Linked DNA regions of Homo sapiens: regions 1, 2, 3, 4, 6 and 7 are each linked to region 5. The links come from fine-mapping of genetic effects on gene expression. A gene starts in region 5. Each other region holds a variant in brackets. All regions are shown on one strand. Distances are between the middles of the regions. Region 1 has its middle 11 kb from the start of ARL4D. Region 2 overlaps BRCA1 (BRCA1 DNA repair associated). Region 3 overlaps NBR1 (NBR1 autophagy cargo receptor). Region 4 overlaps BRCA1 (BRCA1 DNA repair associated). Region 5 holds the start of LINC00910 (long intergenic non-protein coding RNA 910). Region 6 holds the start of VAT1 (vesicle amine transport 1). Region 7 holds the start of LOC124904145 (U2 spliceosomal RNA).

Evidence for each region.
Region 1: its variant is fine-mapped to the expression of LINC00910 in CD4 T cells (BLUEPRINT, PIP 0.94).
Region 2: its variant is fine-mapped to the expression of LINC00910 in whole blood (INTERVAL, PIP 0.94).
Region 3: its variant is fine-mapped to the expression of LINC00910 in whole blood (INTERVAL, PIP above 0.99).
Region 4: its variant is fine-mapped to the expression of LINC00910 in whole blood (TOPMed, PIP 0.96).
Region 6: its variant is fine-mapped to the expression of LINC00910 in lung (GTEx, PIP above 0.99).
Region 7: its variant is fine-mapped to the expression of LINC00910 in naive CD8 T cells (Schmiedel 2018, PIP 0.95).

Annotation. Positions count from the first base shown.
Region 1 is chr17:43,408,009-43,412,099 of GRCh38, forward strand. No RefSeq gene overlaps it. Among named protein-coding and RNA genes, the nearest start is that of ARL4D, 11 kb to the left of the region's middle. The variant AT/A (reference allele first, on the strand shown) is at 2,215.
Region 2 is chr17:43,098,697-43,102,696 of GRCh38, forward strand. BRCA1 (BRCA1 DNA repair associated) reads right to left here. Exons shown (of 23, transcript NM_007294.4): 7 at 1,079-1,184. Among named protein-coding and RNA genes, the nearest start is that of BRCA1, 25 kb to the right of the region's middle. The variant ATG/A (reference allele first, on the strand shown) is at 1,848.
Region 3 is chr17:43,197,061-43,201,151 of GRCh38, forward strand. It overlaps NBR1 (NBR1 autophagy cargo receptor), which reads left to right. Exons shown (of 21, transcript NM_005899.5): 16 at 1-46; 17 at 3,107-3,548. Among named protein-coding and RNA genes, the nearest start is that of TMEM106A, 13 kb to the right of the region's middle. The variant T/C (reference allele first, on the strand shown) is at 2,510.
Region 4 is chr17:43,050,771-43,054,770 of GRCh38, forward strand. BRCA1 (BRCA1 DNA repair associated) reads right to left here. Exons shown (of 23, transcript NM_007294.4): 20 at 293-347. Among named protein-coding and RNA genes, the nearest start is that of RND2, 28 kb to the left of the region's middle. The variant C/T (reference allele first, on the strand shown) is at 2,002.
Region 5 is chr17:43,386,900-43,390,990 of GRCh38, forward strand. It overlaps LINC00910 (long intergenic non-protein coding RNA 910), which reads right to left and starts at 1,999. Exons shown (of 6, transcript NR_027412.1): 1 at 1,390-1,999. It also overlaps the pseudogene RNU2-4P. RefSeq lists enhancers at 50-565, 566-1,081, 1,372-2,125, 1,579-1,808, 2,126-2,879 and a silencer at 1,722-2,016.
Region 6 is chr17:43,019,246-43,023,329 of GRCh38, forward strand. VAT1 (vesicle amine transport 1) reads right to left here and starts at 3,140. Exons shown (of 6, transcript NM_006373.4): 1 at 2,691-3,140. The coding sequence starts at 3,077. The variant G/A (reference allele first, on the strand shown) is at 1,824.
Region 7 is chr17:43,286,400-43,290,490 of GRCh38, forward strand. It overlaps LOC124904145 (U2 spliceosomal RNA), which reads right to left and starts at 4,082; the gene lies at 3,892-4,082. The variant C/A (reference allele first, on the strand shown) is at 1,950.

The sequences.
Region 1 (4,091 bases), 21 kb after region 5:
AGGGTCTCTATCAGTTAAGGTTGGAGAATTTATCTGGGAAGGCTTCCTGGAGGAGGTAAGGAAAAGAAGTCAGCTTGGAGCCAGAATTAAGTATTCTGATTAATGAGGGACCTGGAGCATTGTAGGCTTCGGAGCACCTTTTTGGCTCCACCTACTCCTCAGGAGGAAAGGCCTGAGTCTGAGGTTTAATAGATACAGTTTTGTTCCTCCTTTCCCTGTAATTACCTGGCCTGAGACACTCTCAGACTCTGTCCACCACTCCTGTCCTTCAACTCCTCCCACTGTCACCTGAGGATAGGCTGTATCTAGATTCACATTCTCTACCTCCTACTCCAGAAGAGTAGGTTGTAGGGCAGGTGTCAAAGAAGAGACTCCCAAGCTCTAGACCTGTGGTGTCCAATATGGCAGCCATGAGCCACACATGGTGATTGAACATGGGGAGTGTGGCTGGTCTGAACTGAGATATGCTGTACGTGTAAAATACACAACAGATTCAGAGCCTTCATGTGAAAAAAGAATGTAAAATTTCTTATTAATACTTTTTATATTGATTATGCATATGTTGAAGTGATACTTTTTACATAATGAGTTAAATAAAATGATTAAAATTAGATTCAGTTGTTTCTTTTTAACATTAAAATGTGGCTATCAGAAATATTAAAATTACATATGTGGCTCACATTCTTCACATTCTGTTTCTTTTCTTTTCTTTTCTTTTCTTTTCTTTTCTTTTCTTTTCTTTTCTTTTCTTTTGAGATGGAGTCTTGCTCTGTCGCCCAGGCTGGAGTGCAGTGGCGTGATGTCGGCTCACAGCAACCTCTGCCTCCGAGGCTCAGGCGATTCTCTTGCCTCAGCCTCCCAAGCAGCTGGGATCACAGGTGCCTGCCACCATGCCCAGCTAATTTTTAGTAGAGATGGGGTTTCATTATGTTGGCCAGGCTGGTCTTGAACTCCTGGCCTCGGAGTCCACCCACCTTGGCCTCCCAAAGTGCTGGGACTACAGGCGTGAGCCACTGTGCCCGGCTTCACATTCTGTTTCTACAGATAGTGCATCCACATATTTGGGGGGAAGGAGCATTATGAGTAAAAGAATGAAACACTTGTTCTCCTTTTTGTCTGAAATCAGAAGAGAAACAGGGCCAGGCGCAGTGGTTCATGTCTGTAATCCCAGCACTTTGGGAGGCTGAGACGGGAGGATTGCTTGAACTCAGAGTTCAGGACCAGCTTGGGCAACTAAAGAAGATCCTGTCTTTACAAAAAGAAAAATTAGCTGTGCATGGTGGCTCCTGTGGTCCCAGCTACTCAGAAGGCTAAGGAGGGAGGATTGCTTGAGCCTAGGAGGCAGAGGCTGCAGTCGTTGTGTTCAAACCACTGCAACTGCACTCCAGCTTCAGTGACAGAGTGAGACCCTGTCTCAGAGAAAAAAAAAAAAAGAGAAACAGACCAGAACTGTAACAGTATGGAAGGAAGGTAAATTATAGGAAGGCCTTCTTGATAGGAAGGACTGAAAAACCTGAAAGATCCACATACTTCTTTTCTTGGAAAGCTTTCAGAATAGGAGAGGACTTTGCATATCTTAAATCATTTTAAGATGGTATCTTATCATACTATGATTCTCAGTGATCCAAACTTGGTTACTTAGCAGGTGACTTTCCTGGCCTTGTTCAAGGTGTTTTCACCACACAAACAACTCTTAATTGTCTACTTGGTGATGAGCCCAGATACCTGGAATCCATAGAAAATTCCTAACATGATTTTACCCAATAGTTTCTAATCTTTCATCAGACTGCTGAGGCAGCAGCAACAGTGTTGACAGACTGAGGTTTCATCATCCTGCCCTCCCCTGCTGCCTGTCTCTGCCCACCCTCTACCCCCGGGAAAGTGCTGGAGCAGAGGGAGGGTTCAGGGAGGCAATATTGAGAAGGAACATGCCAGCTGGGGGTCTGGATAATCCACAAACTGGATTATCTGTCCCTGACTTTGCATAGATGTAAGCAGGTGGCCTATATGTAGACAGGATGTACTGGGATGAGCCATGGGCATCTGGTTAACGTGTGTGTGTATATGGGGGGGTGGTCCTACAATAAATTCCCCCACCTACTTATCTCCCATCCAGAGCATTAATTCAACCAATCACTCCTTCTTTCAATTAACCACATATAATATGAATAGTATTTAGCATTATTTACTGTAGTTTCATAGTGAGAGACTAGA[AT/A]TTTTTTTTTTTTTTTCAAGACGGAGTCTTGCTCTGTCGCCTAGGCTGGAGTGTAGTGGCGCGATCCAGGCTCACTACAACCTCTGCCTCCTGAGTTCAAGTGATTGTCCTGCCTCAGCCTCCTGAGCAGCTGGGATGACAGGCTCACGCCACCAGGCCTGGCTAATTTTTGTATTTTTAGTAGAGACGGGGTTTCACCATGTTGGCCAGGCTGGTCTTGAGCTACTGACCTCATATTATCCGCCCACCTCGGCCTCCCAAAGTGCTGGGATTACACATGTGAGCTACCACGCCCGGCCGAAAAAATTTTTAAAAATCTTTATTGTGCACTGAAGGCTGACTAGGGGCTGACACAGCATCCTAGGCACTGGAGCTAAGGTGCAATTTGTACCCAAAGAAGTGTCTTAGATCTGGTTCCCTTGATGTGCAGACTGAGATGGGGATTTGGGCGGCACATGGTTTATTGTGAGGCAAACTCTCAGGAGAAGGGAGGAAAGGAAAGAGGGTGGGGCACAGAGTGGGGAAGCAAGGATGTGCTTCACAGCTGAGTCTGGTTTTGGCTTGATCCTGTGGGAAGCTCTGGGTGGACAACTGTATGACAGAAAGGATCCCACCTGAGTCAGGGAGGCTAGTTTTTTATGTCCCTGTCAGTCAGCTAATTGGCTGCCCTCTAGGCCAAGGGCAAGTCCAGAGATGGAGAGCCATTGGCAGCCAAAACTCACAGTCAGCACCGGGAATCTGGGTGGAGCACCAAGGCATCCACTCAGGGAGTAGCCTGAGAAGAGAAGAGTGAGCTGACCCGAGCAAGCACAGCCCTGATTGTTATCCACACTTGGCAACCCAGTCCTCTTTCTACTCTCACTCTCAGCCTGGCCTCAACCCTTATCTGCCCTTGTCCCACCTTCTTTCTCTTTCTGTTTCTTTTTCTTCCTCTTTCTTTCCTTCTTTCTTTCTTTCTTTTTTTTTTTTTTTTTTTGACAGCGTCTCACTCTGTTGCCCAGGCTGGAGTGCAGTGGCATGGTCACGGCTCACTGCAGCCTGGAACTCTTGGGCTCAAGCGATCCTCCCACCTCAGACTCTCTAGCAGCTGGGACCACAGGTGCACACCACCATGCCCAACTAATTACTTTTTGTAGAGACAGGGTCTCACTATGTTGCCCAGGATTCCTACTTCTGATCCTGCCTTGTCTGTCTTGAGAATGTTTATCAGGTTGAAACCTTGAGTTTCTTCAAGAGGCTCCAGGAGGCTGTGGCTACTGAGTCATTCCTTGACCTCTTTCCTTGCCTATGGGTCATCTGAGCCCCACTGTTCCCTTAGGCAGAAAACTTTGATATCCTTGGGGACATCTGACCCTAACCCCTTCTCTTGCTCTTTCTCCTTTATTGGGTGTACCCATCCCATCTCCTGTGGTGGAGAAAGGACAGTTCAAGAGAAATTCATTCTCAAGGCTTGACTCCTACTTAAACATCACAGGATACATTCCCTGGAAGGGGAAGGGTGCGTCTGTACTGGCTTCCTTAGAAACTTCAGAACAGAAAAGACGCCTCCTTTCCCTCCCCCTCCCCAATTCAAACAGGGGCTGGGAGAGAGGAAGAGATTATTGTTTCAGGGGGTGGGGGGTGTGGATGGACTGAGTGCTGAAACTTCCTTTTCTTCTGGCACAGCTCTATTTGTAGAAGTGCCAGAGTCCTGGGGAGAAAAGCAAGAGAGGGAGAAAAAGAACATTATTTGAGGGCATTTGGCTGCTCTTTTACACTCGAGATCAAACAGAGAAAATCCAGCGTCATGCCCTCCCCATCTTTCTGTCCCTAGCATGTAGATGTCCTGTGGTGTGTCTCACAAATGCACATGCACATGCATGCGAACACACACACA
Region 2 (4,000 bases), 290 kb before region 5:
AGGGTTCCCCTATGTTGGCCAGGCTGGTCTTAAACTCGTGGACTCAACCAATCCTTCTGCCTCGGTCTTCCAAAGCGTTAGGATTACAGGCACGAGCCATCCTGCCCAGCCAAGATTCAGCTCTTTTTTTTTTTTTTTGAGATGGAGTTTCACTCTTGTTGCCTAGGCTGGAGTGCAATGGTGCGATCTTGGCTCACTGCAACCTCTGCTTCCTGGGTTCAAGCGATTCTCCTGCCTCAGCCTCCTGAGTAGCTGGGATTACAGGCATAAGCCACCACCCCGGCTAATTTTTTTTTTTTTTTTTTTAGTAGAGATGGGGTTTCTCCATGTTGGTCAGGCTGGTCTTGAACTCCCGACCTCAGGTGATCCGCCCACCTCGGCCTCCCAAAGTGCTGGGATTACAGGCGTGAGCCACTGCGCCTGGCAATTCAGCTCTTCTTAAAAGGCTTCCTCATCTAGTACAATTTATCTTGGAACTAAATACTGTAGCAATCCATCATGTTTTTTCTTATTGCTACTCTCCATCTTTCCAAAACATATTTACACATATTTAAAACCAGATATTCTTTCTTTTGCTCTCTTTTTTTTTTTTAGATGGAGTTTCGCTATTTTTGCCCAGGCTGGAGTGCAATGGTGCGATCTCGGTTCACCGCAACCTCCACCTCCCGGGTTCAAGTGATTCTCCTGCCTCAGCCTCCCGAGTAGCTGGGATTACAGTTATGTGCCACCACACCTGGCTAATTTTTTATTTTTTGGTACAGACAGAGTTTCTCCATGTTGGCTAGGCTGGTCTCGAACTCCCGACCTCAGGTGATCCACCCACTTTGGCCTCCCAAAGTGCTGGGATTACAGGTGTGAGCCACCATGCCTGGCCTCTTTTGCTCCCTTTTTAAAGTAAGATTCTTCAAGGTGGGAACTGCGTCTTTTACATTTTTTATAACTCACCATAGGGCTCATAAAATTCACTTCCCAAAGCTGCCTACCACAAATACAAATTATGACCAAGATTTTTGGCAAAACTATAAGATAAGGAATCCAGCAATTATTATTAAATACTTAAAAAACCTGAGACCCTTACCCAATTCAATGTAGACAGACGTCTTTTGAGGTTGTATCCGCTGCTTTGTCCTCAGAGTTCTCACAGTTCCAAGGTTAGAGAGTTGGACACTGAGACTGGTTTCCTGCTAAACAGTATGGTAAAGAACAGTCAAGCAATTGTTGGCCAGTTCTGTGCTTTTCCTCCTGAAGAGAAACTTGACACCATGGACAAAATAAATTGACCATCATCAGTCAGCTAACATGTATGATGCCTGGAAAAAATGCCCAGGAATTTACACACTAAAATGTCTGGGGCTGGGAGCGGTAGCTCATGCCTATAATCCCAGCACTTTGGGAGGCTGGAGCAGGACTGCTTGAGGCCAGGAGTTCAAGACCAGCATAAGCAACAGAGTGAGACCCAGTCTCTACAAAATAATAGTAGTAGTAATAATAAAATGTGTGGGATATGTGTGATTTGAATTTTTTTTTCTGTTGTCTTAAATTTTTCAAACCTGATTATGTATTATTTGTGTAATTTTTGAAGTATTAATATAGCATATTTTGAAGCTGATACTTGATATACATTCCAATCACATCTGATAACTTTTTTTTTTGTTTTGGGGGGTGTACAGAGTCCTGCTCTGTCACCCAGGCTGGAGTGCAGTGGCGCAATCTCAGCTCACTGCAACCTCCGCCTCCTAAGTTCAAGAGATTCTCCTGCCTCAGCCTCCTGAGTAGCTGGGTCTACAAGCGTGTGCAACTATGCCTGGCTAATTTGTGTGTGTGTGTGTATATATATATACATATAT[ATG/A]TGTGTGTGTGTGTATATATATATATAACATATATATAACATATATATATTATATATATATAACATATATATAACATATATATATGTTATATATATATAACATATATATAACATATATATATATATATATATAATATATATATATATATATATATATGTAATCCCAGCACTTTGGGATATATGTGTATATATGTTTTTTTTTTTTGAGACAGAATCTTGCTCTGTTGCCAGGCTAGAGTGCAGTGGCGTGATCTCGGCACACTGCAACCTCCACCTCCCTGGTTCAGTTGATTCTCCTGCCTCAGCCTCCCGAGTAGCTGGGACTACAGGCGTACACCACCACGCCTAGTTAATTTTTGTATTTTTAGTAGAGACAGGTTTCGCCATGTTGGCCAGGCTGGTCTCACACTCCTGACCTCAGGTGATCTGCCTGCCTCGGCCTCCCAAAGTGCTGGGATTACAGCCATGAGCCACCGTGCCTGGCCAATAACATTTTTAAAAAGGATAAATGATGACAATAAAACCCCAGCACTCCTAAGAACATTTAGTATAGGAACGAGTATTTAAAAGCCCAACATTACTTTTTTTTTCCTTCCTTTTTAGCTCTATATCTTTTGAAAAATGAATGCTGGTACTGTGAGAACTACTTTTATTTTATTTGTATTTTTTTAGACAGAGTCTTGTTCTGTTGCCCAGGCTGGAGCGTGGTGGCGTGATCTCGGTTCACTGCAACCTCTGTCTCCTGGGTTCAAGTGATCCTCCCACCTCAGCCTCCCAAGGAGCTGGGACTACATGCGCACGCCACCATGCCTGGCTAATTTTTGTATTTTTTGTAGCGATGGGGTTTCACCACATTGCCTAGGCTGGTCTTGAACTCTAGGACTCGAGATCCACCCGCCTTGGCCTCCCAAAGTGCTGGGATTACAGGCAAGAGCCACTGCGCCCAGCTAGAACAATTACTTTTTTTTCTTTTTTGAGACAGAGTCTCACTCTACGGCCCAGGCTGGAGTGCAGTGGCGCGATCTTGGCTCGCTGCAACCTCCGCGTCCTAGGTTCAAGCAATTCTTGTGCCTCCGCCTCCCGAGTAGCTGGGATTACAGGTACGTGCCACCACACCCAGCTAATTTTTGTATTTTTAGTAGAGATGGGTTTCACCATGTTGGCCAGGCTGGTCTCAAACTCCTGACCTCAAATTATCTGCCTGCCTCAGCCTCCCGAAGTGCTGGGATTACAGGTGCAAGCTACTACGCCCAGCCCCAGAATGATTACTTTTTAAGATCTCCATCATTCATGCACATATAAGTAACAACAGAGCAAATCACTACATTTTCTTTAACAATTACACCTTTTAAGTTCAAGTAATTTTCCCTTTTTTTAAAAGATAGGGTCTCAGTCACCTGCGCTGGAGTCCAGTGGCACAGTCATAGCTCAACTGCAGCCTTGACTCTCTATGTTAAAGCAATGCTCCAGCCTCAGCCTCCCAAGTAGCTAGGACCACAGGTGCATACCACCACGCCCAGCTAAGTTTTTTTGTTTTTTTTTTGAGACAGAGTCTCACTCTGTCGCCCAGGCTGGATCGCAGTGGCGGGATCTCGGCTCACTGCAAGCTCCACCTCCCGGGTTCATGCTATTCTCCTGCCTCAGCCTCCCGAGTAGCTGGGACTACAGGAGTCCGCCATCACGCTCAGCTAATTTTTCTGTGTTTTTAGTAGAGACGGGCTTTCACCATGTGAGCCAGGATAGTCTTGATCTCCACACCTCGTGATCCACTTGACTCGGCCTCCCAAAGTGCTGGGATTACAGGCGTGAAGCTTTTTTTTTTTTTTTTTTGAGACGGAGTCTCGCTCTGTCGCCAGGCTGGAGTGCAGTGGCGCAATCTCGGCTCACTGCAACCTCCGACTCTCAGGTTCAAGTGATTCTCCATCCTCAGCCTCTGGAGTAGCTGGGATTACAGGCACGTGCCACCACACCCAGCTAATTTTTGTATTTTTAGTAGAGACCGGGTTTCACCATGTTGGCCAGGGTGGTCTCAATCTCCTGACCTCATGATCCACTGGCCTCAGCCTCCCAAGGTGCTGGGATTGCAGGTGTTAGCCGCCGCACCCAGCCAGTTCTTTTTTTTTTTGCAACTAGATCTTGCTTTGCCGCCCA
Region 3 (4,091 bases), 190 kb before region 5:
GCTGCCCCAGACCACAACCCTCCTTGCAGACAGAAGTCCTTGCAGAGTGAGTGTCCTTGCATTTCCCCTACCTAGCAGGGTGGCACCTGAATTGTGACTGCCAGACTTGACTAGTTAGATGTGCTCTTCTTCACTGAGACTGAAGGGAGAGTGATCTTAGTTAGAAGTTCTGATCTTGGCGGGGCGTGGTGGCTCAAGCCTGTAATCCCAGCACTTTGGGAGGCCAAGGCAGGCGGATCACAAGGTCAGGAGATCAAGTCCATCCTGGCTAACATGGTGAAATCCCATCTCTACTAAAAATACAAAAAATTAGCCTGGCGACGTGGCGGGTGCCTGTAGTCCCAGCTACTCGGGAGGCTGAGGCAGGAGAATGGCATGAACCCGGGAGGCGGAGCTTGCAGTGAGCCAAGATTGCGCCACTGCACTCTAGCCTGGGCGACAAAGCGAGACTCCATCTCAAAAAAAAAAAAAGAAATTCTGATCTTGTTTGTGTCTTTAGACTCTACGTATGCTACCTGACTGTTCTAATTAGAGCATCAGGAGTAAAGAAGCCATCATACTCATTTCTCCATCTTCTCAGGGGCAGAATTACAGCTGCATTCCACAGTGGAATAGCAGCCAGTTGTGCTGCCTGGATTCTGCAGTAAGGAATCTTCCTGTAATTTGACAGAGCTCCTTAGCAGAGACCCCTATGGGTAGCTGAGTTGTCTGCTTTCTCCAAGGGCAGCAGTCCCAGAAACAGTGGATAGAAGCAGGAGTACCAACAAAGTTTCTCAAGGTTAAATTCTGCTGTAATAAATACCTTTATAGGCCGGGCACAGTGGCTCACCCTTGTAATCCTAGCACTTTATGAGGCTGAGGCGGGTGGATCACCTGAGGTTGGGAGTTCGAGACCAGCCTGACCGACATGGAGAAACCCCATCTCTACTAAAAATACTAAAAATTAGCCAGGTGTGGTGGCTACATGCCAAGGATTACATGCCTGTAATCCCAGGTACTTGGGAGGCTGAGGCAGGAGAATCACTTTAACCCGGGAGGCGAAGGCTGTGGTTAGCCGAGATGGCGCCATTGCACTCCAGCCTGGCAACAAGAGTGAAACTCCGTCTCAAAAAAAAAAAAAGGAATAAATACCTTTATAACAGAAACTTCTAGGTATCAGATAGATAGAACCAATAGCATATATTTTAAGAAGTATCCAAAAATTCAAATATACTATGTCAAAATAATATTGGAGAATCTCTTTATTATAATCAAATTTGACCTATATCTTTAAATATTATTTATCTTACTTTTGTTTAAAGTATACATGTAAGGCCAGGCGCAGTGGCTCACGCCTGTAATCCCAGCACTTTGTGAGGCCGAGGCGGACAGATCACAAGCTCAGGAGTTTGAGACCAGCCTGACCAACATGGAGAAACCCCATTTCTACTAAAAATACAAAAATTAGCTGGGCGTGGTAGCGTGTGCCTGTGATCCAGCTACTCAAGACGCTGAGGCAGGAGAACTGCTTGAACCCGGGAAGCCAAGGTTGCAGTGAGCTGAGATCGCACCACTGCACTCCAGCCTGGGTGACAGAGCGAGACTCCGTCTAAAAAAAAAAAATAATAAAGTGTACATGTGGCCAGGTGCGGTGGCTCATACCTGTAATCCCAGCACGTTGGGAGGCCGAGGTGGGCGGATCATGAGGTCAGGAGATGAAGACTATCCTGGCTAACACGGTGAAACCCCATCTCTACTAAAAATACAAAAAATAAGCTGGGTGTGGTGGCGGGCGCACCTGTAATCCCAGCTACTCGGGAGGCTGAGGCAGGAGAATGGCGTGAACCTGGGAGGTGCAGCTTGCAGTGAGCTGAGATCATGCTACTGCACTTCAGCCTGGGCAACAGAGTGAGACTCCATCTCAAATCAATCAGTCATGTATATCTTTATATTTTTTTCCACATGTGTGTACAAATACATAACAAAAAGGTCTGGAAAGACAGTACCAAAATGTTCACAGCTGTTATTCTGATAGGATTTATGGGTAATTTTTTTTTTTTTTTTGAGATAAGGTCTCACTCGCCCAGGCTAAAGTGCGAGTAGCAAGTTTATGGCTCATTGCAGCCACAACATCCTGGGGTCCCCCTACCTCTGTTTCCCAAGCAACTGGGACCACAGCCACATGCTACCACAATGAGCTAAATTTTTTTTTTTTTGTAGAGATGGGATTTCGCCACGTTGCCCAGGCTGGTCCCAAACTTCTGAGCTCAAGCAGTCTGCCTGCCTTGGCCTCCCAACGTGCTGGGATTTTAGGCGTAAGCCACCACACCTGGCCTGGGTAGCTTTTTTTTTTTTTGGGACACAGTCTCTGTCACCCAGGCTGGAGTGCAGCAGCGCGGTCTCGGCTGACTGCAACCTCCGCCTTCCCAGGTTCACACCATTCTCCTGCCTCAGCCTCCCGAGTAGCTGGCACTACAGGCGCCCGCCACCATGCCCGGGTAATTTTTTTGTATTTTTAGTAGAGATGGGG[T/C]TTCACCGTGTTAGCCAGGATGGCCTTGATATCCTGACCTCATGATCTGCCCACGTTGGCCTCCCAAAGTGCTGGGATTACAAGCGTGAGCCACCGTGCCTGGCCCTGGGTAGCTTTTTTCTATCCTTTTTTACCCTCTCAAACATGATTGGCCAGTTTTCTCCCATGACTGCATCATCTTTGTAAAGAAGAGGAGGAGATAGACATATAATCCTGCAATACTCATCTCCTAACTTTTTCTCTTTTTATAGCACTGTTAGTGTATCAGTTTTGGTTTAAACTCTACTCAGTATATTAACCATCACATAAAAAGGAAAAAAGGGATGGAGCTGCCTCCTTTTATGATTCATAGAGCTTCTTGGAAACCTGAGTGTTTCTGCCTACCTTGTTTCTGTGAGCTTTGATTCTATTTTGTTTTGCATAGTCTTCAAACTTAGAATATGGTCATAGTTCCAGAACCAGCCCTTCCCTTTAGTTCTTCCCTCTCCTCTGGCTTTCATAATTCTAGCTTATGATCCACAAGGCTTTACCAAGTAAGGATAGTACTTAGGCCTGCTTTTAGCTTCCACCTTAAAATTGGTTGCTTTCATCCTTTAGTGACATTTGCCTTGCCTGAAGGACCACTTGGAAATGAGAAGGAGGAGATTATCCATATCGCTGAGGAAGAAGCTGTCATGGAGGAGGAGGAGGATGAGGAGGATGAGGAGGAGGAGGATGAGCTCAAAGATGAAGTTCAAAGTCAGTCCTCTGCTTCCTCAGAGGATTACATCATCATCCTGCCTGAGTGCTTTGATACCAGCCGCCCCCTGGGGGATTCTATGTACAGCTCTGCGCTCTCACAGCCAGGCCTGGAGCGAGGTGCTGAAGGCAAGCCTGGGGTTGAGGCTGGGCAGGAACCAGCTGAGGCTGGGGAAAGACTCCCTGGAGGGGAGAACCAGCCACAGGAGCACAGCATAAGTGACATCCTCACGACCTCACAGACTCTGGAAACAGTGCCCCTAATCCCAGAGGTAGTGGAGCTTCCACCGTCACTGCCCAGGTACCACTCACAGCCCCCTCAGCTGGGGTGTTCTTCAGAGGTGAAATAAAGAGAGGAATCGACCTGATCTCAAAACCTGTTTTTTCCTCAGTATGGAAAGAGACTATTTTCCATAGCAAAGTCTGAATTTAGATGAATAAAAGTTGTATTTCCCAGTATTTGTGGATTCTGGATTTAAAGAAATATTTGTTTTAGTTGGCCTTAAATTATCTGAGTATAGTCTGTCTGCTTATATTTTGATTATTGAGAGCTGGTTGTGTTTTTTTTTTTTTTTTTTTGAGACAGGGTCTCAGTCTGTTGCCCAGGCTGGAGTGCAGTGGCACAATCTTGGCTCACTGCCACCTCTGCCTCTGAGGCTCAAGCAATCTTCCCACCTCAGCCCCCTGAGTAGCTGGGACTATAGGCATGGGCCACCACACCTAGCTAATTTTTGTATTTATTGTAGAAGCGGGGTTTTGCCACGTTGTCCAGGCTGGTCTTGAACTCCTGGCCTTAAGCGATCCAACTGCCTGGGTCTCCCAAAATGCTGGAATTACAGGTGTG
Region 4 (4,000 bases), 340 kb before region 5:
CTCACTAACATGTTGGCACTAACAGCAGCTCAACGCCATCTGAACACATAACATACTGAATCCTAACTATTAACCACCTTCATGCTCTTGAGAAGGGGGACAAGGTATAGTTTTTTTTTGCCATAGGATAACATTTAGGTGCTGTTTTGTTTGGAGAGTGGTAGAGAAATAGAATAGCCTCTAGAACATTTCAGCAATCTGAGGAACCCCCATCGTGGGATCTTGCTTATAATACTCCACTATGTAAGACAAAGGCTGGTGCTGGAACTCTGGGGTTCTCCCAGGCTCTTACCTGTGGGCATGTTGGTGAAGGGCCCATAGCAACAGATTTCTAGCCCCCTGAAGATCTGGAAGAAGAGAGGAAGAGAGAGGGACAGGGGAATGGAGAGAAGGAAAATCTAGTTATAAAAGAATATTGGCTTTTATTCAAAAAACAGACTTTCAAAAAGGAAGAGCTTTTCTTTTTCTTCTGTTCACCACCTGATGATTTCTGCTGCTACTTCCCAGGGACAAGCAGTCCAATGTCCAGAACACTACTGGATTTCAGAAGATCTTCTTGAAGTGCATATGTAGTTGACCTGCACTCTACAGGCATTCTTTGTCATTCAAGGACTGAGCATCTCACTTTTGTCACCAATCAGGCCAAGGCTCCTCCCTAATGATCTCTGCAGGTGCTTTAACTTGTTAGATGCAAGGGAAAAAAGGTCCTTCTGTATGTTTAATAAGAGGCTTGGATGGCTAGAAACTCAAAGTTATTGGCTGAAGTTTGATGTTTATCCAGACTTGGTACCTCAAGTACTCACTATGACCCCATCAACAGAGGGGTCTATGTTGATTTTAGGTGTACATGCTCCTTGTCTCCTCTGACTTTTTTTTTTTTTTTTGAGACGGAGTCTCTCTCTGTCACCTAGGCTGGAGCGTAGTGGTGCGATCTGGGCTCACTGCAACCTCTGCCTCCAGGGTTCAAGCGATTCTCCTGCCTTAGCCTCCTGAGTAGCTGGGATTACAGGCGCGCACCACCACGCCCGGCTAATTTTTGTATTTTTAGTAGAGACAGGGTTTCACCATGTTGGTCAGGCTGGTCTCGAACTCCTGACCTCGTGATCTGCCTGTCTTGGCCTTCCAAAGTGCTGGGATTACAGGCATAAGCCACTGCGCCCGGCCCTCTCTGACTTTCTTCTAGCCCCCTAAACATCTGTTCCTTCCTTCTCACTACTCTGAGAATGGCCATTGTATCTTTAGGCCACCTAAGCAGTTTTTAATCTAGAAGTGAAGCCAGGTTCTGCCTCTCCTCATTGAACTAGTCTGACTACCTGGTTTCCTGAAGACACAGATCACACTGCACTGCCTCTTCCACTTACAGGGCTTGGCAACACTGTTCAAAACAACTTTCTGTGATAGTCACAATGTTCTATATCTATGCTAATAAGGTAGCCATGAGTCACATATAGTTATTGAGCACTGGAGATGTGGTTAGGGTGAATGAAGAACTAAACTTCATATTTTAATTTTTTTCTTTTTTTTTGAAGAGATGAGGTCTCATTCTGTCACTCAGGCTGGAGTACAGTGGCACGATCATAGCTTGCTGCAGTATTGAACTTCTGGGCTCAAGCAATCCTCTTGCCTCAGCCTCCTAAGTAGCTGGGACTACAAGTGCACACCACCATGACTGGCTAATTTGTAAAATTTAAATTTAAACAGTCCCATGTGGCTGGTGGCAACAGTGTGGGACAGTGCAAATTCTCATAAACACACTGGCATAGGTTCTTAGCAAATAACTTGGGTATCACTTAAAAATAAACCCTAAAATTGTATCATTTTGGATGGATATGTTTTGGGTGACTCTCAGTGTCTTGACCTTCCCATTGCAATAAAAAGAAAATTGCCAAGGCCTAAAATTCACCTGGCTTCAAAGAGACTGCGATAGAGAAAAAAATCAGGAAGCTAAAAATACACGGATGGCCTTTTAGAAAGTGGTCACCCTCCCCCTTGACAGACAGA[C/T]GGACAGAAACACACACACACACACACACACACACACACACACACACACACACTCTCTTACTTTACCGCCAGAGTGAAAAGAAATGGCAGTAGGACAAGTCTGTGTGTTTTTTTTTTTTTTTTGAGACGCAGTCTTGCACTGTCGCCTGGGCTGGAGTGCAATGGTGCCATCTCGGCTCACTGCAACCTCCACCTCCTGGGTTCAAGTGATTCTCCTGCCTCAGCCTCCCTAGTAGCTGGGATTACAGGTGCACACCACCACACCCGGCTAATTTTTTGTATTTTTAGTAGAAACGGGGTTTCACTATGTTGGCCAGGCTGGTCTTGAACTCCTGACCTCATGATCCACCCGCCTCAGGCTCCCAAAGACAAGTCTGTTTGTTTTAAGGGACAGCATCCATCTGTGCCACTCTCACTACCTGTATGAATAAACCGCACCCCCAACCTGTTGATAGGACCTGCATGCTCATAATGCTAGAAGTTCTCCCCAGGCAGCCAAGTGGAGCCAAATGCTGACATGAAAAGTACAAAAGATTAGGAATGTTTATATCCAGGCTAACACTCAGTGATGAGGATGCCTAGTTATGAGATAAGAAATTTGAAGTTTCGGGCTTGGCGTAGTGGCTCACGCCTGTAATCCCAGCACTTTGGGAGGCTGAGGCAGGCGGATCACGAGGTCAAGAGATGGAGACCATCCCGTCTAACACAGTGAAAACCCGTCTCTACTAAAAATACAAAAAATTAGCTGGGCATGGTGGCGGGCACCTGTAGTCCCAGCTACTTGGGAGGCTGAGGCAGGAGAATGGTGTGAACCCAGGAGGTGGAGTGGAGCTGGTAGTGAGCCGAGACGGCGCCACTGCACTCCAGCCTGGGTGACATAGCGAGACTCTGTCTCAAAAAAAAAAAGAAATTTGAAGTTTCAGGCCGGGCGCGGTGGCCTGTAATCCTAGCACTTTGGGAGGCCGAGGTGGGTGGATCACTTGGGGTCGGGAGTTCAAGACCAGCGTGACCAACATGGAGAAACCCCATCTCTACTAAAAATACAAAATCAGCTGGGCGTGGTGGCACATGCCTGTAATCCTAGCTACTTAGGAGGCTGAGGCAGGAGAATCACTTGAACCCTGGAGGCAGAGATTGCGGTGAGCCAAGATCACGCCATTGTACTTCAGCCTGGGCAAGAAGAGCAAAGCTTCGTCTTAAAAAAAAAAAAAAAGAAATTTGAAGTTTCACCTCTACATATACATTTCTCTTCCAGAGAAAAATACTATGGTGACATTTAGTATTTTCAGAATGTCATTACTTTGACCACATACTTTCCATCATTGCTATTCTGCATGGAGGAAAAAATCCAAAGCACTAGAATTTCTTTTTAAAGAGGGGAAGAATCTGGTGCTAATACTGCCTAGCATACAGTGGAGGAAAAACAGAGGACTGGCTCACATGGCGCTCCCCTGTGGTAAAGGCAGAAGCAGAAATAAGGCCAGCAGCTTTTCTTGGCATCTGGAACAATTACTTGATAGGCTCAGAAGGTAAAAACAGGCTGACCTCAGCAGTTCAAAACTCCAGGCTTCATTTGTGATCATGTCCCAAAGCAGTTTTCCTTAGGAAATTACCTCTACTGGTTCCCTCTTAAGTTTCTATAAAGGGACAGAAAGTGCTCAGTAGAAGGATGTTTTGTTTTGTTTTGAGACAAGGTCTCACAATGTTGGCCAGGCTGGAGTGCAGTAGCACCATCATGGCTCACTGCAGCCTCGACCTCCCAGACTCAAGCATTCTTCTCACCTCAGCCTCCTGAGTAGCTGGGAATACAAGAGTGTGCTACGACACCCAATTAATTTTTAAATTTTTTTGTAGAGACAGGGTCTTACTATGTTGCCCAGGCTAGTCTTGAACTCCTGGGCTCAAGTGATCCTCCTGCCTTGGCCTCCTAAAGTGCTGGGATTACAGAAGTGAGCCGCTGTGCCCAGCTGGGATTTTTTTTTTTTTTTTGAGATGAAGT
Region 5 (4,091 bases):
GGTACCAAGAGCTAAACTCCATCTCAAAAACAAAAAACAAACAAACAAACAGAGTAAGTTGAAGTCCAGCCTGGGCAACACACCACTGGAATCCATCCCTTTGAAAGGTCATCACCCCTCCACAGCCAAGCTGAGATTTAAAGCCCTCCAAGTAAAGTCGAACATGTTCCCTACTTGGAAATGAATATTCTTGTTTTGGGTCCTAGGATACTCTCCATAAATCATGAACCTTATGATACTTAAAGGAGTAAGAAAACCTACCAACTATCCTAAACTACCCGGCGCAGTCTTTTCTTTCTAACCTTGCAAACAGGTTGTATCCCAGGAGAGGGAGCCCCATTCCTGGAGGTACTGCAATACCAGGTCGACGCGTGGAGTGGACAGAGCAAGCTCCTATTTCATCTCCCTGCTCCAAAAATCTATCTAATATAATTGTTCTCTGATAGAGGACGTATCAGATATTAAACTGATAAGAACAGATACTACACTTGATCTTAGCCAAAAGGACGAGAAGAGATGTCGTCGCCTTCCTCCCTGCCATCACCGTCCCACTCTCATCTACATTCAAGACGCGGTGAGAGCCCCAGCCTCGCTCCTTGCCTCATTCACTTTGTCTTGTCCACACCAATATTGACGCCATTACACACTCGGGCTGATTTCTTATTCTCCACGTTTTAAAAGAAAAATCTGCCGGGCGCAGTGGCTCACGCCAGTAATCCTAACACTTTGGGAGGCCGAGGCGGGTGGATCACAAGGTCAGGAGATCAAGACCATTCTGGCAAACACGGAGAAATCCCGTCTCGACTCAGGAGCTCGAGACCAGCCTGGGGAACACGGTGAAACCCCATCTCTACTAAAAATACAAAAAAATTAGCCGGGCGTGCCGGGCGCGGTGACTCACGCCTGTAATCCCAGCACTTTAGGAGGCCGAGGCAGGTGGATCACGAGGTCAGGAGATCGAGACCATTCTGGATAACACGGAGAAACCCCGTCTCTATTAAAAATACAAAAATTAGCCGGGCGTGGTGGCACGTGCCTGTAGTCCCAGCTACTTGGGAGGCTGATGCAGGAGAATCTCTTGAACCTGGGAGTCCGAGGTTGCAGTGAGCCAAGATTGCGCTACTACACTCCAGCCTGGGCGACAGAGTGAGACTCCATCTAAAAAAAAAACAAAAACAAAAAAACAAAAATTAGTCAGGCGTGGTGTCGCGCGCCTGTAATCCCAGCTACTAGGGAGGCTGGGCAGTAGAATCACTTGAACCCGGGAGGCGGAGGTTGCAGTGAACCGAGATCGCGCCACTGCACTCCAGCTTGGGCGACAGAGCGAGACTCTGTCTCAAAACAACAACAAAACAACAACAACAACACAAAAACCAAGAGAAATCTTACACCAGTTCTAGTTCCGGGGTTTCCGGGCTTTCATTTCGAATTTGCATGCCCTGCCCTTTCCCAGGAGGCGTGGCCACCGCGGTTGACTCCACCCCCGGGCCCGCCTCCAGCTAAGGAGCCGCGGCTGGGCTAGGGGCGACTTCCTTGTTTGTATGAGCGAAAAGACTGAACCAAAAGAGACAGGGGGTGAAAACAAGATAGGTCTGTGGAAGAGACCTGTAGGCGGAGAGCGGTCCCTGTTTTCCTGGAGAAAGACGAGTCGCAAGATATCATCACCAGGGGAAACCAGGCTGAGCTGGATCTTTACGTCGTCACCAGTGGGCGGGGAGACCAGCCTTGTACCCACTGGACAGCGGGCCCATTCCGAGTCAGGGAAGCAGAAGGCCTGGAGGAGCTTCGGGGAGCAGGGGCTGGAGTTCCTCTGCCAGGCAGGAGGCTGACACCAGACACCGGGCAGAGGGAGGCGGCGCATGGACGGCGAGGGCCCAGCAAGGATTCTCCCCAGCCCCTGTGCCTGCGTCTCCTGCGGCTTCTGTGCGCGGACCGTGTCCTGTGCTGTGTAGGGAAAGCTGCTTCTCTGCTTGGGACGTGGATTCCTTTACCCTCCTCCTCGCCTGACTACTTCTGACGCGGGTCGTCAGGACTCCGCTTGGGTGTCACCCGTCCAGGAAGCCTCCCTTAATTAAGGGCCCTCGGCACCCACCCCATATGTGATTAGCAGCCCTCCTGTGTATTTCATCGCACCTCGTTGTTTATATCAACTACTCCACTCACCACCCTTCTGGGCAGTCCTTTATCTCCCCCTCTGAAATCCGATCGCTGAGGGCTGGGACCCTCATCAGTACTTATCCCCGTTTCTCTGCGCTAGTCTAATTAGTGCCTGGCAAGTTGAAGGCGCTCAGTAAACGTTTGTGGAGCGAAGAAACGACGGATAGGGCGTAATGAGCACGACACACGCAATCAGAGAGGACGCAGTTAGGAGGCTATTGGCCCGGGGCAGGCGTGAAGGGGGAAGATCGGGCTCGGGGTGGGAGGACACCAGAGGGCGGGGTGACTGTCGGGGTGCTCTGGAGGAAGATGGGCGTCAAGGCCCCCAGCAAGGTTGGGATAAATTTTCTCTCTGAGGCACAGACTGCCGCCTGTAGCGTCAGCATTTACCATTCCCGTCCTCCTTCCTAACACAACAGTTGAGATGAGAGTTTATGGCTCTTTTATTTGATTTCAGAAAAGCAAGAAGGTATCATAGATCCGATAGTGACACTCAGTCAGTCATGCTCCCCCTGCAGGATGGAAAGCCGGATGGCAGGGATTGCCTGGTGAACAACCAGGTCAAAAAATATAAACTGTGCCTTTCCCAATGCCAGCCTCGGGTCCGAGGGCTCTACGTGCATTATCTCTTTTAGTTCACTCGACAGCCCTAAGAGATGGGCGTTATTATTAGCCACGGCCAGGATTAGGGTGAGGTCATTCCTCTAGGTTCGAATTTCAGGGGGTGATCCTCCAGAACCCTTCAGTAATCAAAATAAATAATAGTTCAATGCAATATATCTTATCTCGATTATAAGATAATCAAGCCATTTATCTGGATTGCTGAGTCTTTTGGTGCCCCCTTATTTTTTTTTTTAACCTCTCAGCAAGTGTTTCCCTCATTTCACTTTACCCCAGTCTCCACCGAGTCATTGTCATCTCCATTCTATTACCCTGTGAAGTGCAATATGGCAGCCACCCACCTCGGCCTCCCAAAGTGCTGAGATTATAGGCGTGAGCCACTGCGCCTGGCCTGTCTGTCTGTCTGTCTATCTATCTATCTATCTATCTATCTATCTGTTCTTTTTTCTGAGACGGAGTCTCGCACTGTCGCCCGGGCTGGAGTGCAGTGGCGCTATCTCAGCTCACTGCAACCTCCGCCTCCCGTGTTTAAGCGACTCTCCTGCGTCAGCCTCCCAAGTAGCTGGGACTACAGGTGCGTGCCACCACACCGGACTGATTTTTTGTATTTTTAGTAGAGACGGGGTTTCACCGTGTTAGCCAGGATGGTCTCCATCTCCTAACCTCGTGATCCGCGTGCCTCGGCCTCCCAAAGTGCTGGGATTACAGGCATGATCCACCGCGCCTGGCCATATCTATCTATATTTTGAGACAAGGTTTCCCTCTGTTGTCCAGGCTGGAGTGCAGTGTTACAATCACGGTTCACTCACCATACACCAAGATAAATGCCAAGTGGGCCAAAGATTTCAAAGTGAAAAAAATGGAACTATAAAAGTATATAAGGGCCAAGGCCAGGCGCGGTGGCTCACGCCTGTAATCCCAGCACTTTGGAAGGCCGAGGAGGGCAGATTACGACGTCAGGAGTCAGAGACCAGCCTGGCCAATGTAGTGAAACCCCATCTCTACTAAAAATAAAATTAGCTGGGTGTGATGGCACGCACTCGTAGTTCCAGCTACTCAGGGGGCTGAGGCGGGAGAATCGCTTGAACTCGGAGGTGGAGGTTGCAGTGAGCCAAGACCATGCCACTGCCCTCCAGCCTGGGTGACAGAGTGCGACTCTGTCTCAAAAAAAAAAAAAAGTATATGAGGGCCAAGCACGGTGGTTCATGCCTGTAATTCCAGCACTTTGGGAGGCCAAGGTGGGCAGATTGCTTGAGCCCAAGAGTTTGAGACCAGCCTGGGCAATATAGCAAGACCTCGTCTCTACAAATAAT
Region 6 (4,084 bases), 370 kb before region 5:
TCTTTTTGAGCTCCACTTTTCCAGCTCCAGTTTTCTTATCTGTCAATTAGGGCAGTTTTTCCAAATGGAAAAAAAAAATTTTAGCACAATGTCTGGCACATAATAAGCACTTAATAATGTTAGCTAACAATAATAATAATAATAATATAATAGCAGCAAGGAAGTCACACAACCAAAAGAAGACGGCACTGTGTGGTCAGGGCCATACCAAAGTGCAGGCAAAGTTCTCTGAGCGCTTACAGCAGGGTGTGGTCACCTCGGGAGAAGTGTGTTTGAGCCAGCACTGGGAGCCCAGAAAACATCTTCACTCAGAGATGGTGCAGGAGGGGCAACAGACAAGAAGGGCTACAGAGGCCTACGCAGCAGTAAAAGGCTTCCCCCCCACCCCCACGAGAGCCTCTGTGCAGGAGGGAAAGGGGACAAAGATAACAGAACCTTTCTCTCCAGCTTAGCAAGTGGGGTCAAGGGAAGGGCAGGGAAAAGGAGGGAGCGTCAGGAGAAAAGACTTCTCTGCGCTCTCTGAAGAGCATGAAGAGGGAGGTGTGGGTGCTGTTCTGGGACAATCTGGGTCTGTCTTGATCCCTGCCAGGAATGATGGGAATTCTGTATATTAACAAGAGTTAGGGTCCATGGGGAAGGGGGATGGGACTGCCACTTACGCCCTTTTTCATGTCCTCAAGCCCCCACACTCCACTGAATACGAGAACTGAGGGCATGCTGGGGTCTTTCCTTCCAAGTTCTGGCCTGAGATGAGGTCTGGAGAACAAGAACGGAAGCCCTCCACCCAGGGACTCAGGACTAGCAGATACAGAACAACCCAGGAGAGCTGCGAGGAGTGCATTGGTCATTTAGGGTCATGGCCAGTCCCAGATTTGACCCAGAACAAGTCTCACTTACCCTGGCTCATGCTAACCCTCAGGCCATCCAAATCAGGGCCATGACCCCTCCCCAACCCAGACACCAGGAAGGAGGAGGAGGGAGAGAGAGGGAAGGGCCCTCCCCGCAGAATCCAGGCTCTTACATCAGATTCTTGCCCTGGACAGGATATCCTGTATTTACCAGGCGGAAAGTGTATGGAGGGGAGGTGAGGTGGGTGGCCTTCAGCAGTAACATGAACTACAACTACCTCCCGAAAATATTCCTCTTAGACGCCTGCTCAAGAGTGGGATCATTTAGAAGTCAGTTTGAGGGTGGGGCCAGAGCTGAATTCAGAGGAAAGCCTTAAGGAGAAGCTGTTTGCATACAGGATGAATCCAACAAACCTGGCTCCAGAATTGGGCTGGCAGGTCTGCAAGAGGCTGCATCTGTGGGGCCTCTCATTGAGGGGTCTGATTTAAAAAGGAAACTCCTGGCCAAGCGCAGTGGCTTATGTCTGTAACCCCAGCACTTAGGGAGGCCGAGGTGGGCAGATCACCTGAGGTCGGGAGTTCGAGACCAGACTGACCGACATGGAGAAACCCATCTCTACTAAAATACAAAATTAGCCAGGCATGGTGGCGCATGCCTGTAATCCCAGCTACTCGAGAGGCTGAGGCAGGAGAATCGCTTGAACCCGGGAGGCAGAGGTTGCGGTGAGCCGAGATCGCGCCATTGCACTCCAGCCTGGGCAACAAGAGCGAAACTCCGTCTAAAAAAAAAAAAAAAAAAAAAGAAAAAGAAAAAAAAAAGAAACCTCTAAACAAATGGCGTGCTGAGGCCTCATCCCAGGTCTCTCAAAAAGCTGATCATTTTGAGCTCTCTGGTGTCCAGGGTTGTGGCCAAGATTAATGATAAATGAGAAGGAGAAACAGGCCTGCAGACTTGGCCAACCAGTTCAAGGCGCC[G/A]CACCTCTCCGTTCCAGTCCAAACCCCTGGCACTGGGGTTTCTGAAGTGGGGGTCCTCTGCAGGAGGAAGGCAGAGGTGGGTCCCCCCTTCCACTCCCCGCCCCAGGCATTCCCAAGGGCAGCCCCGGGTCGTGGCCCGAAGGCTGAGGGCTGAGTCACAGGAGGAGGAGATACTGCAGTCACGGGAGACACAGAGCCCAAGACAAAGATCGGATGACCCAATCCCGCCTCCCCCACCCCAAAATCAGATCGGCGGTGTAAGGCTGGTGGCGGTGGGGTAGCAAAGGCTCTCTCTCCTCCGTGATGGGCGTGTCTCGTCTCTTTGGCCTTGCTTTGGGAGGGGCCGCCTCACACCCCCACAGACCACGGGGCTGCATGTGACCAGGACTCTGGCACGGCCGCTGTGCCCCCGCCCAACCCCGACGACATAGCCCCTCAAGCTCCCTCGGGGAAAGGGGGCACTAACCGTCACTCATAGTCACAGACCACAATTACCCAGAGAGTGTTTGGTGGGTAGGGGTACAGGTGTGGTTTTAATGGGGGGGGGGGGGGGGGGTGGGGACGGTAGTGTGGTTGTGCGCATGCGCATGGGCACCTTATTGTTTTCCCCCCCACCAGCACAGCTTCTGGGCGGCGGCCACAACTAAAAATGGTTGGGGAAGGGGCGATAATTTCGTCTCCCCTCCCCACATAAATGCCGCTCTCCAGGAGCCCCCAAACACAAGTTCCTTGGCTACGCTTTCCACGCTCGTGCACCCAGGTCCGCGCCAGTTTCTCCCGCCCTGCCACACCCCCGGCGCTCGCCCACTCGTGCCCCACTGCCCAGTGGCCTGCGCAGCCCTGCCCTGCCCTACGCAACCCGCTCACCTTGCGGTCGCTGACTCCCTCGCCCACTGCGATCACAACACCCGCGCCCTCCATGCCCGGAGTGACAGGCAGAGGCGGGAGACGGTCGTACAGCCCCTGCCTAGCCATGAGGTCTGCGAAGTTGAGCCCGCAGGCCCGCAGACGCAGCGTCAGCTGGCCGGGCCCAGGGGCCGGGGGCGCTGCCGGCCGGCTCTGCAGCTTCACCTTGTCGTAGCCTCCAAAGCCGGTGAGCACTAGGCAGCGCAGCAGTGGCGGCGAGGCGGCGGCGGCGGCGGCCCCTTCGGAGGCCGCGGGATGCTGGGGGTCGCTCGCTGCCTCGGTTTTCGGAGGCGGCGAAGAGGCGTCTTCCCCGGTCGCTGCCTCGGCTACCTCTCTCTCGTCGGACATGGCTGGGACTCCCGACGAGAGCGCACAGCTGGATGGAGAGTGCACAGCTGGGGAAGGCGGAACGCGTCGGGAAGAGCCGCGGCTGCGGGATCCAGCGGGAGGGGCGGGGCGCCGGGCGAGGCGGGGCCTCGCGCTCAGCCTTAAAGGGCCAGGGCCATAGTGGCGCAAGCTGGGAGAGCACGAAAAGGGGCACCAGGAACGTCTGTGCTCTTGGGATCAAGCCGACTGTGATTTATTTATTCATAGTAAACCTTATTCAAATTAAAAACTATTTTAAGGGATAGGCCTGGCGCGGTGGCTCACGCCTGTAATCCCAGCACTTTGGGAGGCCGAGGCTGGTGGATCATTTGAGGTCAGGAGTTCAAGACCAGCCTGGCCAACATGGTGAAACCCCCGTCTTTACTAAAAATAAAAAAGTTAGCCGGGCGGTAGTGGCGCGCGCCTGTAATCTCAGCTACTTGGGAGGCTGAGGCAGAGGAATCGCTTGAGCCTGGGAGGCGGAGGTGAGCCGAGATCGCGCCACTACACTCCAGTCTGGGCAACAGAGTGAGACCCTGTTAAAAAAAAAAAAAAAAAGGGCCGGGCGGCGTGGCTCACGCCTGTAATCCCAACACTTTGGGAGGCCGAGGCGGGTGGGTGGATCACCTGAGGTCAGGAATTCGAGACCAGCCTGACCAGTATGGTGAAACCCCAGCTCTACTAAAACTACAAAAATTAGCCAGGCATGGTGGCAGGTGCCTATAGTCCCAGCTACTAGGGAGGCGGAGGCTGGAGAATTGCTTGAACCCAGGAGGCGGAGGTTGCAGTTAGCCAAGATCATGCCGCTGCACTCCAGCCTGGGCTACAGAGGGAGACTCCATCTCGAAAAAAAAAAAGGCCGGGCGCGGTGTCTCACGCCTGTAATCCCAGCACTTTGGGAGGCCGAGGCGGGCAGATTACGAGGTCAGGAGATTCACCTGGCTAACACGGTGAAACCCCGTCTCTACTAAAAAATACAAAAAATTAGC
Region 7 (4,091 bases), 100 kb before region 5:
CTCCAACGTCTGTCTCCCTGTGATGCTGTGCTTCAGTGGTCACGCTCCTTGTTCACTTTCATGTTCAGCCTGTACACCTGGCTCCTCCTTTTAAGTTCTTAGAAGACAGCAGTAGCAGAACTAGTAGGAGTACCACAGTCTTCGATCTTTCTGATAAGTGCATAGAAGAAACGCTGACGTTTGCTGTCCTCCCTCTCCACCTCGGCTACCACAAAGGGAAAGGCCCCCTGTCCAGTGGACACGTGACTCGCGTGACCTATCGATCATTGGAGATGACTGGCACTCCTTACCCTGCCCCCTTGCCTTGACTACAATAAATAGCAGCGCCTCCAGGCACTCGGGGCCACTACCTGTCTGTCTCCGCGCTTTGGTGGCAGTGGTCCCCCGGGCCCAGCTGTCTTTCTTCCTATCTCTTTGTCTTCTGTCTTTATCTCTTCGATCTCTCGTCTCCGCACACACGCGAAGAGAAAACCCACAGACCCGGTAGGGGTGGACCCTACATTATCTCAGCTACAACATAATCAGGATATTCACGTGGACTACTGAGTCTTTCGGTGCCCCCTTGCTGTTTTAGTTTTGTCCTGCGGCCGAGTGTTTCCCTCGCTTCACGCCAACACAATCTCCGCCGCCCTGTCTTGTCATCCCCATTCTACAGCCCAGCACGGTGTAGTATGGCAGCCGCTAGCCACAGGTATCTAGGGAGCCCTGGAAATGTGGTCAGTTCTAATGGAGCTGCGCTGTTAAGTGTGAAATACACATGGGATTTTGACGGCAGTGGGAGCAAAATTCTCCCAATTTTTTTTTTTTTTTTTTTTTTTTTTCAGACGGAGGTTCCGCTCTTGTTACCCAGCCTGGAGTCCAATGGCGCGATCTAGGCTCTCTGCAACCTCCGCCTCCCGGGTTCAAGCGATTCCCCTGCCTCAGCCTCCCGAGCAGCTGGGACTACAGGCATGTGCCACCACGCCCGGCTAACTTTGTATTTTTAGTACAGATGGGGTTTCTCCACGTTGCTCAGGCTGGTCTCCAACTCCCGACCTCCGGTGATCTGCCCAGCTGCCGCCTCCCAAAGTGTTGCTTGCGATTACAGGCTTGAGCCACCGCTCACCCTGGCTTTTTTTTTTTTTTTTCCAGACAAACTCTCGCTCTGTCGCCCAGGCTGGAGTGCAGTGGCGCGATCTCGGCTCACTGCAGCCTCTACCTCCCGGGTTCCAGCGATTCTCCTGCCTCAGCCTCCTGGGTAGCTGGGATTACAGGCGCAGGCCACCACGCCCGGCTAATTTTTGTATTTTTAGGGGGTTTCGCCATGTCGGCCAGGCTGGTCTCGAGCTCCTGACCTCAGGCGATCCGCCCGCCTCGGCCTCCCAAAGCGCTGGGATTACAGGCGTAAGCCACCGCGCCGGGCTCTTTCATTCTGTCTTTATTTTCTGAGATAGAGTCTCGCTCGGACGCTCAGGTTGGACTGCAACGGCGTGATCTCGGCTCGCTGAAACTTCCGCCCTCCCGGGTTCAAGCGATTCTCCTGTCTCAGCCTCCCGAGTAGCTGGGATTATTGACGGGCAGCACCACGCCCCGGCTACTTTTTGTGGTTTTTGTATCTTCTGTCTTCTGCTCTTTAGTACCGCATAGAGCCGCAGAAGACTAGCGAGTCGAACAAACGGCCCCTCTTGCAGCAGTTGTTGATCACGGGGCTGCCCCCCGGTACTCATCCTGTGTCTCTCGTCCAAATCCCCGCTCCTCCTCAGCTATCACCTCTGCCGATGCTGGTGGTTTCCCTGGGTACCGGGAACCAAACTCTCATTCCCCAGGGGCCTAAGCCCCCCGTGGCCAGGCCCTTCTCAAGTCAGGGTTCCTGCACATTCACAGTTACGGGTGGCCCTGGGAGTAACACCTGGCACCCAAACAGGTCACCAGAGTCCACACATAGTCCACCTGCCCTCCCTGCGTAAGAT[C/A]AGCTCTTCCTCCTCCCGACGATAGATCAGGGTCAATGATCCCTGCCAAGATGGCGACTGCTCCAGCCTGCTGGTCCAACCTGTCCAGCCACAGCTGTTGCTCGAAGGCTTGAAGTTCAATGGGACCCTCTCCCGCTTTCTACAAACTGGTTCCTTTATTTTTATGTTTATTTATTTGGGACGGGGTCTGGCTCTGTCACCCAGGCTGGAGTGCAGTGGTGCAATCACTGCTCACTGCAGCATCCACCTCCCAGCGTCCACCCATCCTCCTGGCCTCAGCCTCCGGAACAGCTGGGGTACAGGTACGCCCCAGCCCGAACAGGTTTTCACTAGGTTGCCTGGGCTCTTTCTTTCTTTGTCTGTGTTTGTTTGTTGGTTGGTTGGTTGGTTGGTTGGTTTTTGTTTGTTTGTTTCGAGACGGGGCTCCGGCTCTGCCGCCGGGGGCTGCAGTGCAATGGCGCGATCTCACCTCACTGCGGCCTTCTGGGCTCAAGCGATCCTCCCACTGTGCCCGGCCTGAAGACAGCCTTTAGAGAAAGAAGCAGGGGGAGTTCTTCCGAGGACAGACAAGATTTCTGGAGTTTGGAAAGGGTGAGAGACTGGGTCAGCGAAAGGAACATTCCGGTCTTTATGTTGGGATGCAACGTATAGATACAGGGATGAGACCCAAAAGAGCCGGCAGAGGTTTGTCATCGTGCTCGCAAGGCAACTGCCGGTGGCTGATCCCGTAAAGGATACACATACCTAGAGCGGAGCCTAAAGATGCATCCAGCATGACGGGTGGAGCCACGATGCTTGGACTCGAGCTCTGCTCCTGTGCGTTCCGTGATCAATGGCTTATACTACCTGCACCTCAGTTTTTCCCGGGCAAAAAAGGAAGCTTGCTGCCGGTGCGTTGGCACCTGCCTTAAAGTGCCAGCTACTCAGCGGGCTGAAGAGGAAGAAGTTCCTACTAGGAAGACACGTGGACACGTATGTTTACTGCAGCACTATTTACAATAGCAAAGACTTGGAACCAACTCGAATGCCCATGAATGATAGGCTGGATAAAGAAAGTGTGGCACGTATACAGCATGGAATTACTACGCAGCCATAAAAAAGGATGAGTTCATGACCTCTGCGGGAACGTGGATGAAGCTGGAAGGCCTCATTCTCAGCAAACTGACACAGGAAGCGAAAACCAAACACCGCATGTTCTCGCTCCTAAGTGGGAGTTGAACAGCGAGAACACATGGGACACAGGGAGGGGAACATCACACGCCGGGCCCTGACGGGGCGTGGGGGGCAAGGGGAGAGAGAGCATTAGGACAAATAGCCAACGCATGCGGGGCTTCAAACCTAGACGACTGGTGGATAGGTGCAGCAAAGCACCGTGGCACACGTGTACCTATGTTCCAAACCTGCACGTCCTGCACATGTACCCCAGAACTTGGGAGGGGGTGGGGGAAACCAAAAGAGCGAGGGAGAGGCGGGGGGGGGGAAGAGAGAGAGAGAGGGAAAGAGAGAGAGAGACAGAGAGAGGAGAGAGAGAGAGAGAGACAGAGAGAGAGACAGAGAGACAGAGACAGACACAGAGAGACGGAGAGACAGAGAGAGAGAGAGAGAGAAAGAGAGAGAGAGAGAGAGAGACAGGAGAAAGAAGAACTCCGGGTGGGTCCCATTCCTTTAAAAGGTCGCCACCCACTCGACTGCCAAGCTGAGATCCTAAGGACCTCCCCAAAGGAGGAGGTCGTGGCCTTCCCAAAGCGCAGTAGCCACGGTGGAAACGAAAGCGTGCCGCATAAGCCTACCGTCTACCGCCCGCACATCAGGAACCTCAAGGTACTTCAGGGAAGCAGTTAAGTCAAGCCGGCGCGTCACAGGCACTCGGCGTGCAAGCCGCCCCGCAGGTGCTACCGTCTCTTACCTCCCTCTACTTTTAGGAAACACGTTGTATCCCCGGAGGGGGTGCACCGTTCCTGGAAGTACTGCAATACCAGGTCGATGCGTGGAGTGGACGGAGCAAGCTCCTATTCCATCTCCCTGCTCCAAAAATCCATTTAATATATTGTCCTCGGATAGAGGACGTATCAGATATTAAACTGATAAGAACAGATACTACACTTGATCTTAGCCAAAAGGCCGAGAAGCGATGCGCTCGCC